Linked DNA regions of Homo sapiens: region 2 is linked to region 1. Evidence: fine-mapped expression QTL. Tissue or cell type: ileum. Region 1 holds a variant in brackets; the other region holds the start of a gene. All regions are shown on one strand. Distances are from middle to middle.

The links. PIP is the estimated chance that this variant, and not a neighbour inherited with it, causes the effect.
Region 2: TARID starts here. The variant in region 1 is fine-mapped to the expression of TARID in ileum (GTEx, PIP 0.97).

Annotation. Positions count from the first base shown.
Region 1 is chr6:134,814,046-134,822,122 of GRCh38, reverse strand. All of the region lies in intron 2 of LOC101928277 (a long non-coding RNA gene), which reads left to right. Among named protein-coding and RNA genes, the nearest start is that of ALDH8A1, 130 kb to the left of the region's middle. The variant A/G (reference allele first, on the strand shown) is at 5,012.
Region 2 is chr6:133,886,153-133,894,229 of GRCh38, reverse strand. TARID (TCF21 antisense RNA inducing promoter demethylation) reads left to right here and starts at 5,224. Exons shown (of 9, transcript NR_109982.1): 1 at 5,224-5,626. It overlaps TCF21 (transcription factor 21), which reads right to left and starts at 5,117. Exons shown (of 2, transcript NM_003206.4): 1 at 4,383-5,117; 2 at 1,973-2,517. The coding sequence starts at 4,832. The coding sequence ends at 2,428. RefSeq lists enhancers at 1,146-1,754, 2,640-3,404, 4,656-5,569.

The DNA.
Region 1 (8,077 bases):
ATAGAAAGACCCACTGCTTTTCCTGGCAAGTCCTGAAGGTCATTTGTTTGCTGCTTTTTACGGTAATTGCAACAACCATTTATCCCCTTGTAAACAAATAGTGTGCTTCTAACCTATGTACCACAGTTAAAACGTTATCCCAGTAGGACAAGAGAGTTGCTGACAAAGAGAACTGGCAACATAGGGGGGAGAAAGAAGCAAGGCGTAGTCTGTCTCTTACAAATGTGGGTCATATATATTTCTGTCTGAAGGAGATGATGGACTTCAATTTTGTTCTTCCAATTCCTTTCTATACCCCAGTGAGAACAGTTTTTAGTACATATTTAAGTTCTTTTGCTTTAAGAAGAAAGATAAGAATGATAATAATCTCTGAATGTACCAATCCGCTGTTAAACCCCCTCCACCACCCACCAAATAACTCCTCTCACTAGATCAGTTCAGCCCCAGGGTTCATAGTTAACAAGGCTTCATTAGGGCTGAAAAAAAAATTGCCTTTGCTTCCAAACACGGGTTGAGCTCTGATACGGCCTCAGCAGGGAACAGATTTCCCCCTTTTATCTCTTTGCTTCACTGGTGTGTAATCTTGTCTTTTGGAACGGTGGTAATCAGAACAAATTACCTAGAGTGGGGAATAAAAAGACTTCACAGTCATTGTGGGTAATTTTTTGTTTTCTTTAACAATTGGTACCTTCCTTTAGTAATTGAAAATGATCCAAGAAATCTCTATGTACTTCGTAAGACTTTCCTAAGCGTGCCAGCTAAAGCTTTTAAGGTGGTAGAGATGGTTTCAGCGAGGGCTTGGAAGCTCCAAAAAACCAGAAACTTGCCTTGTTGCCTGGGTCCCTCAACAGGGATGGCCAGAGTTTCTTGAGACAATTGCTGCTGTGGTCTGGAAAGAAGCAGAGCCATGAAAGAGGAGAAGGCTTTGTGGCATGTCTAGGCCCAAATTCCAGATGCAGAGTTTAGTGTGAACAGCGTGTCCCTCCCAATCTTGAGAAGAAGATAAAGAATGGTGCTCCTCTAGGATCTGCCCTCGGTTTTTGTTGGGGGCTCCAGTCCCACTAGACCTGGGTTATTGTCAGAAAGGCAGCCTCACAGTACCTCTGCCACTCAGTGGGGGTCTCTGCGCCTGCTGCTTCATTCATCATCCCCTGCCTCTCCCACGTGCACTGGAAAATGTTATTTGCTTCTTGAGGTTCAGAGAGATGAAGAACATGCCTGAGTTCACTAGCATGAAGCAAGTGTTAGAACCTCTGAGAGACTGAAGGGTTGGGGGTGAGGGTTTATGACATCCATGGGGATGCTTAGAGGAACATCTGCCATGTCAGGTGTCATTTCTGAAGCTTCATACTAGATGAATTTGAGATGTGTGGAAATAGGAACAGCCTATTTGTGAGGTTACCTTCCTGGGCAAAGCAATGTTATCCAAGATTCACTCAGAAAGCCGCAAGAAGCATGCTGGAGCTAGGTGTCAAGAGGAGGTTTATGGCATGTCATTAATGGAAAGTCAGGTGGAAAAGAGCTAACACTTCTCAAGGTATCATCCTTCTGTGTCAAAGTCTCTGCCTCTACAGGACTGTAAGTATGTGGGTTGATAACAGCTTCTAGTGCCTTGAACATGTTACCAGTGGTTGAATGAACAAATGAGCAGAAGTTGGAGATACCCTCATTAGGACGTAGGATGTTCTGAGCCTTAGGTTATCTAAGACTAAGGAGTTTATGAGATGGACTATATCTGCAAAGTCCTGGAGGACTTTAAGAGGTGATAAAGGCTCAGTTGTGTGTAGTAGTAGGGATTTACATAAGAAAAATTTTGGATGGCAACTTAAACTAGGTCAGCATTTTTTAAGGGGGGGTAAGGACATGTGTATGTTAAGAAAAGTGGATGTAGTCTCAAATCTGGGTATGTCTAAGTGGGAATTAGTGCAAGTCGTCTCTGCAGGCATACTTAACCAAAATGAGAAATTAGGGAGCTAGGAGAGTTTAGGGTCTGAGGTGTAATCTTCAGCTGAGACACTGGGTGCCTGCCAGCAAGCTCAGTCATTAAGGGACTGAATTCAGGGTAGAAAGTCCAGCCATGGGTGCTGTGGACTCCAAGTTCAGAGCAGAGTAACCACTTTTATTGTGGTTACTAGACCAAGTTCAACATAAGTTCCAATGTCTCCTCTTTTCCCTTGGAACAATGCAGAAAGTCTATTTCCTTCTTGAGTTACTCTAAGGCTTGGTGTTTCTTATATTCATTTCTAGCTTCCTTTAGTCAAGCCAAATTGTTAATATGCTTGACCAAAAATGATGGAAAAATCAAGATAATAGTCAGAGTTGAGTAATTTCTAACATGAGTCAAAATATAAAAATTATTAGACTGCCCATGAACATAAAAACAGTAACATTACCAACATCAGTTCAAACACAGCATCACAAAATAGAAGTATATTTGTAAATTTTAGCAGCTGCGACTGAACTACATTTTCCATGTATTGATAAAGCAGCCTGGGCAAAAAAAGAAATTATGAGTCACAGGGATGTCTGTATCAGACTCAGAGTAGTACGTCAATTTCTAAAATTGATCTTGAATATATTTATGTCAGAGTCATCCCAAGATGCTTCTGATACGAGTCTTGTGCTAGAGAGTAACATGACTTTGGAGATGTCCTAACCAGGGTTATGAGAAACCCTCTTCTATTTGCCATGGTGATGGTTCAAAGCACAGTTCATCTGGTTCACAAAAAGCAGTTGATCCCTGGTTGGGTCAGAGAAGGGCTGGTGGAGGAGATGAAGAAAAATGAGGGGGGAGATTGTCTTGGGCAACTCTGCTGAGCAACTCCTTGAATTTGACCTGTGGTTCCACCCTTCTTAAATTTCTTCTGAGAAAAGAATACTGGCAGAATGTTGACAATTACTGAAGCCTGGTGGCAGGTGAAGGAGGTTCATTAGGCTATCTTTACTTTTGTTTAACAATTTCTATTATGAAAGTTAAAACATTTCTTCAAAGTAGTTGGTAGGATTTTTTTTTTTTTTTTTTTTTTTTTTTTTTTTTGAGATGGAGTCTCACTCTGTCGCCCAGGCTGGAGTACAGTGGTGCGATCTCGGCTCACTGCAACCTCTGCCTCCCGAGTTCAAGCAAATCTCTGCCTCAGCCTCCTGAGTAGCTGGGATTACAGGCGTGTGCCGCCATGCCTGGCTAATTTTTTGCATTTTTAGTAGAGACGGGGTTTCACCATCTTGGCCAGGCTGGTCTTGAACTCCTGACCTCGTGATCCACCCGCTTCAGCCTCCCAAAGTGCTGGGATTACAGATGTGAGCCACTGCACCTGGCCAGAATTATTTTTAAATGGGAAAACAATTTATGGGATTTCTGTATTCTTATTGCATTTCTTGATTAAAAAACAACTAAAAATTGAAATATAAATATATTGTTATATATGACTATTATTTTGCCTATTTTGCACACTTATATATGCCTATTATTTACACTTCTGGTATATAGGAGAGAGAAAGTGAGCAAATGGGTATTTTCCCTAATGAGACGATATATTTTTTCTTACCATGCTAGTGTTTATAGTCTGGAAAATTCTGTTAAGATATGGAAAGTGACAAGTAGAGCCCACTTTCCACTTTATGGGACAGGCTTAGGGAATGACTGTTCATTGAATCCACTCCCAAAACATAGACTTGCCTTTGATTATATTGGCCATCTTTTATGTTGAGGAACTCTAATGGGCATTTTTTTTTTTTTTTCTGGGGACGGAGTCTCGCTCTGTCGCCCAGGCTGGAGTGCTGCAATGATGTGATCTCAGCTTACTGCAACCCCTACATCCTGGGCTCAAGCGATTCTCCTGCCTCAGCCTCCCAAGTAGCTAGGATTACAGGCGCCTGCCACTATGCCCAGCTAATCTTTGTCTTTTTAGTAGAGACGAGGTTTCACCATATTGGCCAGGCTGGTCTCGACATCCTGACCTCAGGTGATCTGCCTGCCTCGGCCTCCCAAAGTACTGGGATTTCAGGCATGAGCCACCGCACCCAGCCAAATGAGCATTGATTCGGGCCCTGAGGTGTGCTCTGAAATATGTGGAGCAACTAGGTTTCCTGATAACTCACATTCACGTGGGGATGGCACTTGGTTTAGCCACATAGACGTCATCTTCATTTTAATAATTAGGCCTAGCTTGTAAGTTACAAATCACAGTGTGACATGTCTGGTTATATTTTTTAAAGACTTGTGTGAAAACTCATTAAACCTGGTGTGTGTGTGTGAGTGTGATGTGTGATGGATTTGATTGCATTCTATTTTGGTACAGGAACTATAAGTACTTGGGGAACCAAATTTGTTATATTTTATGAATATTAAGTAAAACATTAGACCCGTCTATTTATTAATTTAATACGTTCAGTGAGGAAATATTTATGAAGTGCTTTCATGAGTCAGGCACTGCGTTGGGTGCTGGGAATTCAGTAAAGACCAAAAGCCCTGTGGTCATTGTCCTCACGGGGCTCCCAGACTAGCATGGGAGCAAGCATGAATCTAAACAACCACACATGTGATCCATGTAATTATGCGTGCTACTAAGCGGTGTGACAAAGGTTAGGGTCCTTCACGCGTGTGTAATAAGGCGTCTGCACCCAGCGTGGGGCTCAGTGAAAGCATCCCTGAGGAGGTGGTATCTGATTTGCTATCTGAAGAGGAAGAAGAGCACCAGACTGAGGGAAATGCACTTGAGAAGACTCTGATTGCAGGGAGGACACTCGACAAGACCTGGTTTCAGGGAAAACACTGCACTTTGGAAGTCCTAGGAGGCTAGGGTAGCTGGAGAGGAAGGCGCGGAGGGAGACTGGTGCGCAGTGAAGCCAGAGAGGCAAATGCAAGCCGAATCCTGCAGGGCAACGTATCCCATGGAAAGAATTTGGTCTTCATCGGAAGAGCAATTGGAAAGTCTATTAAGGGTTCAACGCAGAGGGATAACATGATCTAATTTATACTTTTCAGGAAATCACTTTCACTGCAGTCTGGAAA[A/G]TGGATTAAAGGAGGGCAGTAGAGGCTACAGCCCCTGGGGAGGGGGTGGTGATGAGTCAGCTGTGAGCCAGCCTCTTGGCCATGCACTGGGAATGTGCCAGGAGGTGAGCGGAATGTTCTCTTGTCCTCTTCAAAATCGTGAGCTGTGGAGAGCAGGACTAGTAAACAGATGATGATACAGTGTGATGAGCTTCATATTAAAAGTGAGTAAGACACATTATGTGAGCACAGTAGAGAAGGCAATTAATTTTGATTTGGAGGATCAGGGGAGGCTGCCTGAGGAGGTATCATCTGACCTAGGCCTTGAGGAATGAGTAAGAACCAAAAAAGAGATTCAAAATTATCCCAATGAAAGGAATAGCAAGAGTAAATTTCAAAGTAAGTTTGAAATGCCTTGAGCTTCAGGGAATGGTCAGTCATCTGATGTGGCTGCCTCACTGCCAGTCCACCCACCCTCCAGCCCAGATCACATGCTTCCAGATTATGGCCTCTAGTACCTTGACTTGAATAATTATTTTATCATATCAGGGCCAGGAATTCCTCAAACCCTCCAGCCTCTCACTGTGTCTCACTTCCTTTGTAACCTTAGTTGCCCAAATTAAATCCCATGAGTCATCATTAACATCATTTTCTGGTAAAGACCCTCAATGTCCTCACCCGTCTCTAACTTTATCTTAAAGACTCAATAACCCTCAACTCTGATTTGCTGCAGCCTGTCTACTCTGCCTTATGCTTGAGCAGCTGCCTTTGGTTGGACAAGGGGACATATCCATGTGCTCTGGTCTTATTTGGGACCACTAGATGCAAGGGAGCTCTCAGGGCAGCCAGGCCATCCTACAACACTTTCCTAGTCCATTCATTTCCCCATGCTCCTAAACCATTCTACACTTTCTACTCTCTCCTCAAAACACCAAGATCGGCACCCTCACTCTCAGATGACAGCTTAGCCTCTGAGGTCAATGAGAAAATAGAAGCAGCCGCAAGAGACTCCACACTGTCTCACACTGCATCTTTCCACAAGCCTGCATCTGAGCCCATAGACTCTACGTTCCCTCCCACTGCTACGCATGAGCTCTCCCTGCTCCTATCAAAAACCATCTTCTTTACCTGTGCATATTGTCTTTCCCCTCTTCAAGGACATGGCTCCAGTAGTCTTTTTCTGGTCCTTTCCTCCATCATTAATTTCCCCCTCTATGAAATTATTTCCATCAACCTGAAATATATTGCAATATCTCCTATCTTAAAAAAAAAATCAACTCTCTCTTGACCCCACATACCTAGAGACATCCTTGTTACCTTACTCCCAGTTATAGCAAAACTTCACTAAAGATGTGTCGTTGTCAGTTTTAGTTGAGCTTATTTCCATTCTTTCTTAAACCTATTCTAATCAGTTACTTCCCCAATCACTTCCCTGAAATTTTTCTTTTCACTAACCAAGACCTGTATGTTGTTAAATCCCACAGGAAATCCAATCTTCATTTTACTTACCTATTAACAATATTCGATATAATTGATCATTCTCCTTCCTTGAAACACTTTCTTTATTTCCGTCGGAGACCAAAATTCTCCGAATGTTTCTTCTTTTTCATGGGCTCCTCTTCCTCAGTCTCCTTTGCTCTATCCTCTTCTCACCAGCCTCCAAATGATAACAGAGGGTCTCAGGGCTTAGTCCCTGGACCTGTCCTTTCTGTATGTGTATTTATTTCTTAGATGATCTTACCTAGTCTCATAGATTTAAATATCATAATACACTGATTACTTCCTTTTCCCTGCTTTCTTTTCTAGCCTGGATCTCTTCACTGAACTCTAGGCTCAAAAATCTGTCTACCTGATGTTTCCATTTGGATCTCTGAAAGGTACCTCAAACTTAGAACTGCTTATCATTTACCTTCAAGCCTGTTCTTCACATTTTCCCACCCTCACATCTAATCCATCACCAAACCCTGTCATCTTCATACTCAATAAATGCCCCAAATCTGACCATTTTTGTCATCTCTATTGCCAACACCCTAGTCCAAGCCACTAGTTCCGCTTCCTGGATTATTATATCAGCTTCTTAACTACTTCCACTCTTGCATCTCCACCCCTGCACAGCATAGTCTCAACTCAATATCAACAGTAATCTTTTTTTTTTTTTTTTTTTTTTTTGAGACAGAGTCTCACTCTGTCTCCGGGCTGGAGTGCAGTGGAGCGATCTCAGCTCACTGCAACCTCCACTTCCTGGGTTCAAGTGATTCTTCTGCCACAGCCCTCCCAGGTAGCTGGGACTACAGGCACATGCCACCACGCCCGGCTAATTTTTTTTTTGCATTTTTAGTAGAGACAGGGTTTCACCATGTTGGCCAGGATGGTCTCGATCTGTTGACCTCGTGATCTGCCCCCATCGGCCTCCCAAAATGCTGGGATTACAGGCGTGAGCCACCGCGCCCAGCCTATCAACAGTAATCTTCTTATAAGGTAAATAGGAATATGTTGTCATTCTTCTGCTCAAAATCCCCCACCAACATTCCATCTCATTCAGAATAACATCCAGAGATCTTACGATGGCCTAGAAGGCACTGGGAGATGAGACACCTGTTTGCTCTCTGACCTCATCTCCTATAAGCCATCTCATTGTTCACTGCACTCCAGGCGTCCTGGCCTCTTTGATGTTCCTTAGACATAGCAGGCATGTTTCCTTCTCAGGACCCACAGGTTCACTGTTCCTTCTTTCTGCAAAGTTTTACCCAACAGTTTTCACTTGGCCTGCTTCCTCACTTCCTTCCAGTCTCTGCTCATGTCATTGGATCAGTGAGGTCTTCTTTGACCACTTTGTTTAGATTAGCAGCTCTCCCCACCCATCAGATTTGTCATTACTCATCTATGTGTTATTTTTCTCCATAGTGCCTATGGCTATGTGACATACTATATTAGTTAGGTTAGTGGTAGAACCTGTAAACATCAGCTCCAACATTTCTGCAGTTGAATACATTGTATGTATTTTAAATGCTAATGTTCCTAATTGGGGTTGGTTTTCCTTCCCCTGGGATTCAGACACTCAGATCCTTCCATCTTGAGGCTCTGCCT
Region 2 (8,077 bases), 930 kb after region 1:
AATAGATACCAAAAAGAGGTATTTTAGTTCGTGGAAAAAAAAAGATCATTGCCTGGATGCTATAAACATACATCCCTTGGAACTTCCTGCCTGAGACACTTTCAGTTTGGGTCTAGGCACAGATAATTCACTACCCGCCACTTAGTAAAAGTAACTGACATTTTCACGGAGCTTTTCCTTTACCAAGGGATTTTACAGATATAATCTCATCTGAGCCTCACTAAGCCTCTGTAAGATGAAAGAGGAAGGTCTGCATATAATGATTATTATCATTCTCATTACCGTTATCCCTGCTTGCAGAGATGGGAAAACTGAGGATCCAGGCTCTTTCAAGAAACAGCTAGTTGGATGCAGAACCAGGGTCAAATCTACGTGTTCCCTATTCATAGCCACATGCCTCCTGCCTAAAGCAAAGGCTTCAAATTATTGGTAGGGAACTATAGATAGCCATGAAGACTTTCTAAAAATCCATGTATAGATTGGGGTTGTAAGGGAATGAGCAAGAAAAAGTTATTTCTCTATGGATGGCCTGCCTGGAATCCTCAGAATTTAGAGCATTCGTTTTGTAAAAACGTGAGTGGGAGATTGGAAAATTTGCGAAACGTGAAAGGCAATCAATTGAATCACACTGGGGACTCTTTGATTTGAACTCTGGATAGGTTGAGGCATGGGCTCTATCCCTCTGGTAGAAAGGAGAGAACACATGAATTTGAGGAACGGGACTCTGGCCAGAGCTTGAAATGTGTTCTTGAAAGTCAAGTTGGGGTGGCGGTGGTGGGGTGATGGAAGGGTATCCTGACATCTTGAAAAGTCCTCCATGTGCAAATAGACAGGTGGATGAAGTCACCGAAGTTCTCAGCCCTTGGAGAATGGGGAATTGCGCTTGGTAATGTGGTCGCCACCCCTTGGTAATGAGGTCACTATTGCTGACAGAGAGCACACCTGGCAGAGCAGCTTCTCCAGTCGGGACCAGCCTAGCGGGATCCTTCCTCCATGGCCAGGCAGAGGGCTCCACCCGCGAAGCGGCCTGTGGGGTTGGTGGAAGGGCGGAGAAGCTCTCGCTCCAGGTACCAAACTAAGCCGAGAAAAAAGGGTAAAAAATCGAAAAGAAAGAGCAAATGAAGCGGAAGTTTCAAGGCTCTCTGCGAGGAATAACAGTATAAATAACCGAAGACGTCTTGTAAACACTGCGGTCATAACCCCGAACATTAAACAGCCCCGGTGGCATCTGGCGCATCGGCCGCCGCGGGCTGCGCTGGGGCAGTGAGGGAGCCGGGTCGCAGGCTCCTCGGCCTTGCTTCTCTGTTTATCTCAACTTAATCTTCCCTTAGGAGCTGTTCCGTAGCCTGGAAAATGTTTAAATTAAACCCAGTCCGCCGGAAGTCGTGGCGGGAGCTAAACGCACCCGCTAACAGCAACCAAAAGGCAGGCATGCGGGTTTATTGTTAGAATTAATTAATGGACTATTAATAAGAAATGTAGATAATGTATGCTGCAGAGCTTTGAAAATCCTGAAACACACCCTAAGGGTTATGGAATTTACATCTTTCATAGCTTCTATTATTTCTTCACTAGTTTGCAGCTATGCTCACACCTGGAAGGTGACAAAAGGTGGAGTTTACTTTCTCGCCCGTGTCAGCAGTCATACGGTGGAATCCATGAAAATTGGATTTCCTTTTTCTGGTGCGTTTTACTCTTGAACTGTATAACTGTGGATAACTTTAATACTGCCCATTCTTTGTTTTCAGTTATATAATTTCTATTAGCCTTAAAAGTAACCGATATATTTCTTTTTTAAGGTTTCAGTATAAAACATAATCTGCATCTTCATTATGAAACTCATATGCAATTTTCTTCTATCTCTAGAAGTTTAGATTGAGGTTTAAAAGAACCATTTTCATTATCAAGCTTCCCCATAGTTTCCCACTTTCTTATTCCAAATATTTTTAAAAATCACTCCAAATATCAGAGCTTTTAGCAATATAAAGAAAGATTTATTTTCAAAAGTAGCAAAACTTGTTTGAAAAAAATATATATCTTTAAGTGAATTACTTTATAAATGTGACTGTCAAAGTCAGCTATCCTATGATCTACATTTTACAACATATTGTACAAAAGATACATTGATAGGCTCTTATCTATTTATATATTTATAATTACATATTGCACTTGGACCAGCAAGGCTTGCAGAGTCATTCACGGTAGAAGTTAATAAAGTTAAATAGATGGGAATCTTTGTAAGTACAATTGATCTCCTCTGGTTTGGAAACGAATCTCCTCGTCGTTGTAAAGTGTTCTCGCGGGGTGGGACAGAGAGAGGAGCATTGCGAGGGGGAAGCAGAGACAGAGAGCACTGAGGGCAGGGGTCGCCTTCCCGGGGCCCGCTCCCCCCGGGAGCGCGCCTTTCCCAGACTCGCACCTCCAAGGTCAGGACGCGGTGGTTCCACATAAGCGGCTCGCGGTCACCACTTCTTTCAGGTCACTCTCGGGTTTCCCGGCCACCATAAAGGGCCACGTCTGCGGGAAAGAAGAGGGTGGAGGAGGTAAGTGGCCGTGGCGGAGGGGGTGGGGTGGACTCGGGGCCTGAGATGAAAGGAAGGGGGGCGGTGGGGGCAGGCGGTGCTCTGGAGAGACCGGTTATCTCTGCAATTTACTCCCGGTCCTAGCGCACCCTGCGGCTGCATAAAGCAAATAGCTGCTTTGGCGCCAAGTCACAGCTCGAGGTGGTGGTGGTGCTGGTGGTGGTCTTTTAGAATGAGAGCCAAAAGGGCTTATACTGGGTTCCTTGTGAGACTCAATGCAGGAAGCCCCGGGCAAGCCGAGAGTGGGAGAGTGGGTGGTGCTGTGGCACTGCCTGGAGGCAGACGCTTTGGCAGTCTGAGCCGGGAAGCCCAGAACGACCTTGTGCCTACTGGGCACCGAGTTCGGGGCGAAGCGCCCTCCTGGCCTCCTTCTGAGGCGGTGGTCGGGTTTCAGGGCCCTGTCGCTTTCATCGCCTTTCATCACCATCTATTTCCCTAGTCCGACTTTCGTTTCTTCCATCGCAAACACCGGCTTTGACTACAGCTTCTAGATTAATCACCACCTCTTAAGGAAAAAAAAATGCTATACTACATTGACTTTTAATTTAAGATCGTCTTCATGCTGGACTGAGAAAGTATGCTTTCTCTTCCTTTCTCCGGGCTGTTTTATAATAAAGCTCATTTAAGTTTCTTATTCAAAGATGAAGAGAGTAGCAGTTGTAAATATTCGAGGCAACACTTTCATTTTAGGTGGAGATTTTAAAAAGCTATTTACTCATTGGGGGGGAAAAACCCCAAACTTTCAATTGGAGAGAAAACATTTTTCATGGTAAAATGTGGGTTTGCATCTTCTTCTCCAGCAATTCCAGAAACCAATTCGGTGAGAAGACAATTCAGACCCCTCTCACTACTGCTCTAGTGCTAGCTGATAAGACTTGCCTTTTAAAAGGAAAAATCTCTCATTCTTATCATATACAAACAGAGATCCTAGTAAGTTGTTGTTATTGTTTTTCTTTAGATCTTAGAAGTTTTAAAATAAAATCAAATGAAAAAAATTAAGATATATTTCTTAAACAGTAAAATACATTTGAGAAAAAAGTAGACTCAATGATTATCAGTTTTTTGTGTTAAAAAATTAGGCTCAATGGGCATTACTTTTTAAGATAAAAGGTAACATTTCTTAAATCTTGGGTGAGAGTGACCTATTTTAGTATTTATTACACTCATACTAGTGAGGATTTACTGATTTTGCTGATCATTACTAGAACTTCTGGGATTTAAAAATATTAATCCACTTATAGGAGAAGCACAGAATATTTAAGCGGTTAAGGGCTTACGTGGACAATTTGGGGGGCATAGATGTGTCCTTATCCAATGGTCCTAAATATGCTTGTGAAAGAAACGGAGTTGGGTGTTTTTATTTACAAGGAAAGGAAAATCAAGTTCCACTCTCTGCTAAAAGAAGAAAAAAGGATTAACAAAATGCCTGTCCGCTCGCAGCGTCTTGTCAGTGTTCTCAGTTCCGCAGCAGCCACTGCACCCCAGGGAGGATGGCGATGGAGCGGGAGCGGGGGATCCCTCCTCTGTGCCAGCTCAACACACTTGCAAACTTTTAATTGGGCTGCCACGTCAAACCCTCGCATAAATCACTCCCGCTCCGGGGGCTGGTAGGGCAGAGAGCGAGGGCCGTGTCTAGACCGCCCGCCTCCGGTCCCTGGAGGCTCTAGGCCCGCGGTGGTCGAGATGTGTAAGTCACCGCCGCGCCCACACCCCCACTCCCAGCCCCGCGCGCACTCGCGCCCACCGCAGGCGGGAGTGCGGGCGCGCCTGGACTGCAGCTGCAGCCCCGGGAGCACTCACCAGGTTGACCGGGTGAATGTACCCGTTCTCGTATTTGTCGTTAGCCAGGATCTGCCTCAAGTGGGCGATGTAGCTGGACGCCAGCCTGAGCGTGTCCAGCTTGGAGAGCTTGGTGTCGGGGGGCACCCAGGGCAGGGTGGTCTTGAGTCTGGAGAAGGCCTTGCTCAGCACTCGCATGCGGGCCCGCTCTCGCGCGTTGGCGGCGTTGCGCTGGACCTGCTTCCCCTCCTGGCTGACCCCGCTCAGGGGGCTCTTCTTGGTGGGCGCCTTCCTCCTCTTGCCCAGGCCGCCGCGGCCCTTCTGGGGAGACCCATTCTCGCAGTTGGAGCTCTCCTCGGTGCTCTCGTTGGAAGTCACAAATTCCTTGTTCGAATCCATTTTCAACCCGTCACATTCCAACATCTCCACCTCTTGAAGGTCCTCCACATCGCTGAGGGAGCCGGTGGACATGTTTGGGGGAGTGGACGAGGGAGAGAGAGAGAGAGAGACAGAGAGACAGAGAAAGCGAGGAAGAGGGTGAGAGAGAGACAGAGAGACCCTGAAACCAAGAGGCCTCCCGAGTGTGGCGCAGCCACCTCCTGCTGGGAGCTGGAGTTGGGGTCTGGTTGGGTCTCACAACCCTTTCCCCTTCGCAGAGTTGTGAGAAGGAACCCCGAGGACTTCTGCAGCAGAGGAACCGGCTCTCTGTTTCCCCACTCCCAGAGTCGTGGCCGTAGAGGAGGGTGAGCGAGCGCTGAGGAATTTGGTGGACACTAGGAATTTATCTGGGGAATAGAGGGGCGGATCCTTGCAGCCCAGGGAGGGGCCTGCCAGGCCCCAGCAAAGCGCTTAGACCCCTTTCACAACCGGAGGGAAACTCAATGCACAGACCCTGATTTGCAACTTGTAATGTAAATCAACTCAACTGCATCATGTACTTACCAGCCACCTTCTCCCAACTGTGGCCGGGGCCGAGAAGCAGCATGTTCTGTCCATCTGTAAAAGGCCTTCTTTCTCTCTTAAGACGTCACAACTGGTTGTTACTGAGAACTTTAGAAAAACGACTAGATCGTTTGGCTCTTTCTGGGCCTTCCACCTACACTCCATGCCCTCTCTCCTCCCAAGAAAACACGAATTAAAATACAGGGAGTATCAACCGCATCCTGCCAACACCTCATAAGACTCCAAGGCTTTACCGAGATCTTCCACCTTCCCCGGGATAAATGAAGACAAGTGCTTCCTAGAATCTTTATGGTGATGGAAAAGTAAGTATAAAACATTTCACCTACACCTGGTCATTTTCAAGACATCAAAGGACTGCCTACGTGTACACAAACATACTTGATTTGCACACTCAAACCCAACCACACACAGCTTAGTGGGAGTGGGTAGGGAATGAGAGGGCAGTATGAGTGTGTGGAAAACATTATGTTAGTTGATCATCTTTTCCTAATAAATGGAAACTTTCCCCTCGGTTTTTTTTTCTTTTCTAGAAATGCATTTAATATTGCCTTGAGAGTCTTTGTTGCTCTCAGACATCACCTTGCCTGGCACTTTTTGTGATGCACCGTCCCTTTCAATGCTGCTGTCTTTGTCTTCTTCCAGCCTGTTAGGTGCCAGTGTTCCTCACATGAAGCTGACATTACACAACACAAAGCAAGACTATCCTTTTGAGAAAGGTTCTTTTCCATCTTTAACCCCAGCTCGAACCACCTTTCCTAGAGAATAAGAAAGTCTCCTGGGAAGTAGGTAGAAAAAGCACAGGGAAACAGAACCTAGGGATTGGATGAAATTGGTGCAATGAAACCAGGGAGACTGAAGGCATAAATCTCTCTTACAATTTCTTTGCCAGGTTTTCTTCCCTTGCAGGTAGGCATTGAAGTTGAGGGGCTGGAGCAAAATGTAAGAGTGGTTTCTGAGTGGTTGGCTTAGGGTCTGAAGGCTTCTCCTACATTAAGATATCATATCTCTAATCCTAGGCTCAGCTGGGAATTCACTAACCTCTAACGTTTTGTTTTGCTAGCAGGGTCTTGTTTGCTTTCCCCCTATGCTGTAAACTAAACAGGTTGTCAGCAAATCAGTCTTTATTAATGAATTAGCGACCCCTCTTCCATAATATCTTCGCTGAGGATCCAAAATTTGTTAATCACCAGTGTAGAGATTTATGAGCTCTCTTATTTTCTGTTGTTTGTGCAGGTGGAGATTTAAATGACCACATCCACCCTAAGATTTATTGTGAGAATGATTGATGTTATAAACCAGGAAAAGGACTCTTCCCACAGCAGGGATGACAGAAATATCAAGTTGAAGTTGCCTTTGTCTTCACATACGAATGACCCAGTACTACAACACAGAAAGTATAATAATTTAATCTGAGGTTCAAGACAGCAGTGAGAGAACACCCAGCAGGCCTGTTAAAAATTTCTTCACTAATTCCTCAACTAGTTTCCTTTGATTTGCTCTCCCTTTTCTCAGTCTTGGTAAAACATGAAAGTTAAAGTTATTTTTAGACTAAAGAGCTATGTGAAAATGGGCATTGGCCAATACTTTGTGAAATGTGTGTGTGTGTGTGTGTGTGTGTGTGTAGCTACTAAGATATCTGCAAAATAACTACAAATAATTAATTTGGGCTCTGGAATGTGATAATTATTATAAATCCAAACTATGGCCTTACTGCATACATTAAGCTGTGATTTTTCTTGTTGGAGCCATTTTTTTTTCTTTTTGGCTCTGGGTCTCTGTTACACCTTAGTTAATGGACTGCTCAGGCTGTCTGGGGAGATAGTAAAAATCATAGTAATATGTACCACTGAAAAGATTTCTGTTGTCTGTATATTTTTCAATGTTGGAAACTTAAAAGTACCAATTTCTGGAAGCATGTAAAACTAGCCTCATGTCATAGGCTGGTTTTTATGCTTAGCAATTATTTTTCTTCATAGCCATATAAGAAATAATTAAGTCCCATGTCCATTTATCTTGCAGTAAGACATTTGGGCTGAGAAAGGCTAGTGGGCTGATAATAAATTTTGGAGTGTTTCTAAAATTCTGTAAAAGATGGCTTCCAGTTTGGGAGTAAGAGTCGAAGAATACTGTTGCTTATGTATCTTGATATGAAGTCTTGGAGAGAGAATATTCATATGAAAAATACTTTTTTTCTTTTAAAATTTTGTGTCTATCCCTGCTAATAAACACTTAGGGACAAATGGGTGGGAGAAATGACTTCTTGTTGGATTCTACTGAGCAAGTCATTTAAGCTGTAACTTAAGCTGTGCCAAATTCTCCCAAAATATAAACTATATTCTGTGAGAAGACAAGCACTTTTGAGAAGCTGTATTAACCCTTTTGGTAAGTTGACCATTTCTGTTCCAAAGCACGAAATAGAAAACTCGTGATTTGAAAGTATGAGATCATTTCTAAAAGTTCTTACCTGACTTTTAAGAAACATTTATGCCCCAGAGGCATCTGGCCAATTTGCTGCTCACTTCTAACAATTTGTTTTGCAAGAGAGACTATCTTTGAAAGATTTTAGTGCTAAGGAAATTTTATCTCTGAAAGCTGTAAAATGAAGATTAGGCATGGAATGTACCCTTGAACTTAAATCCTGGTTTATCAGCTGATACATTTACAGGAAGTTCAAATTTGATTCAGTTGCACTTGGATGGAATAATTTGCTTCCTTTTTTATGAGAAGGAAAACATCATAGGCTTCCTTTGAAC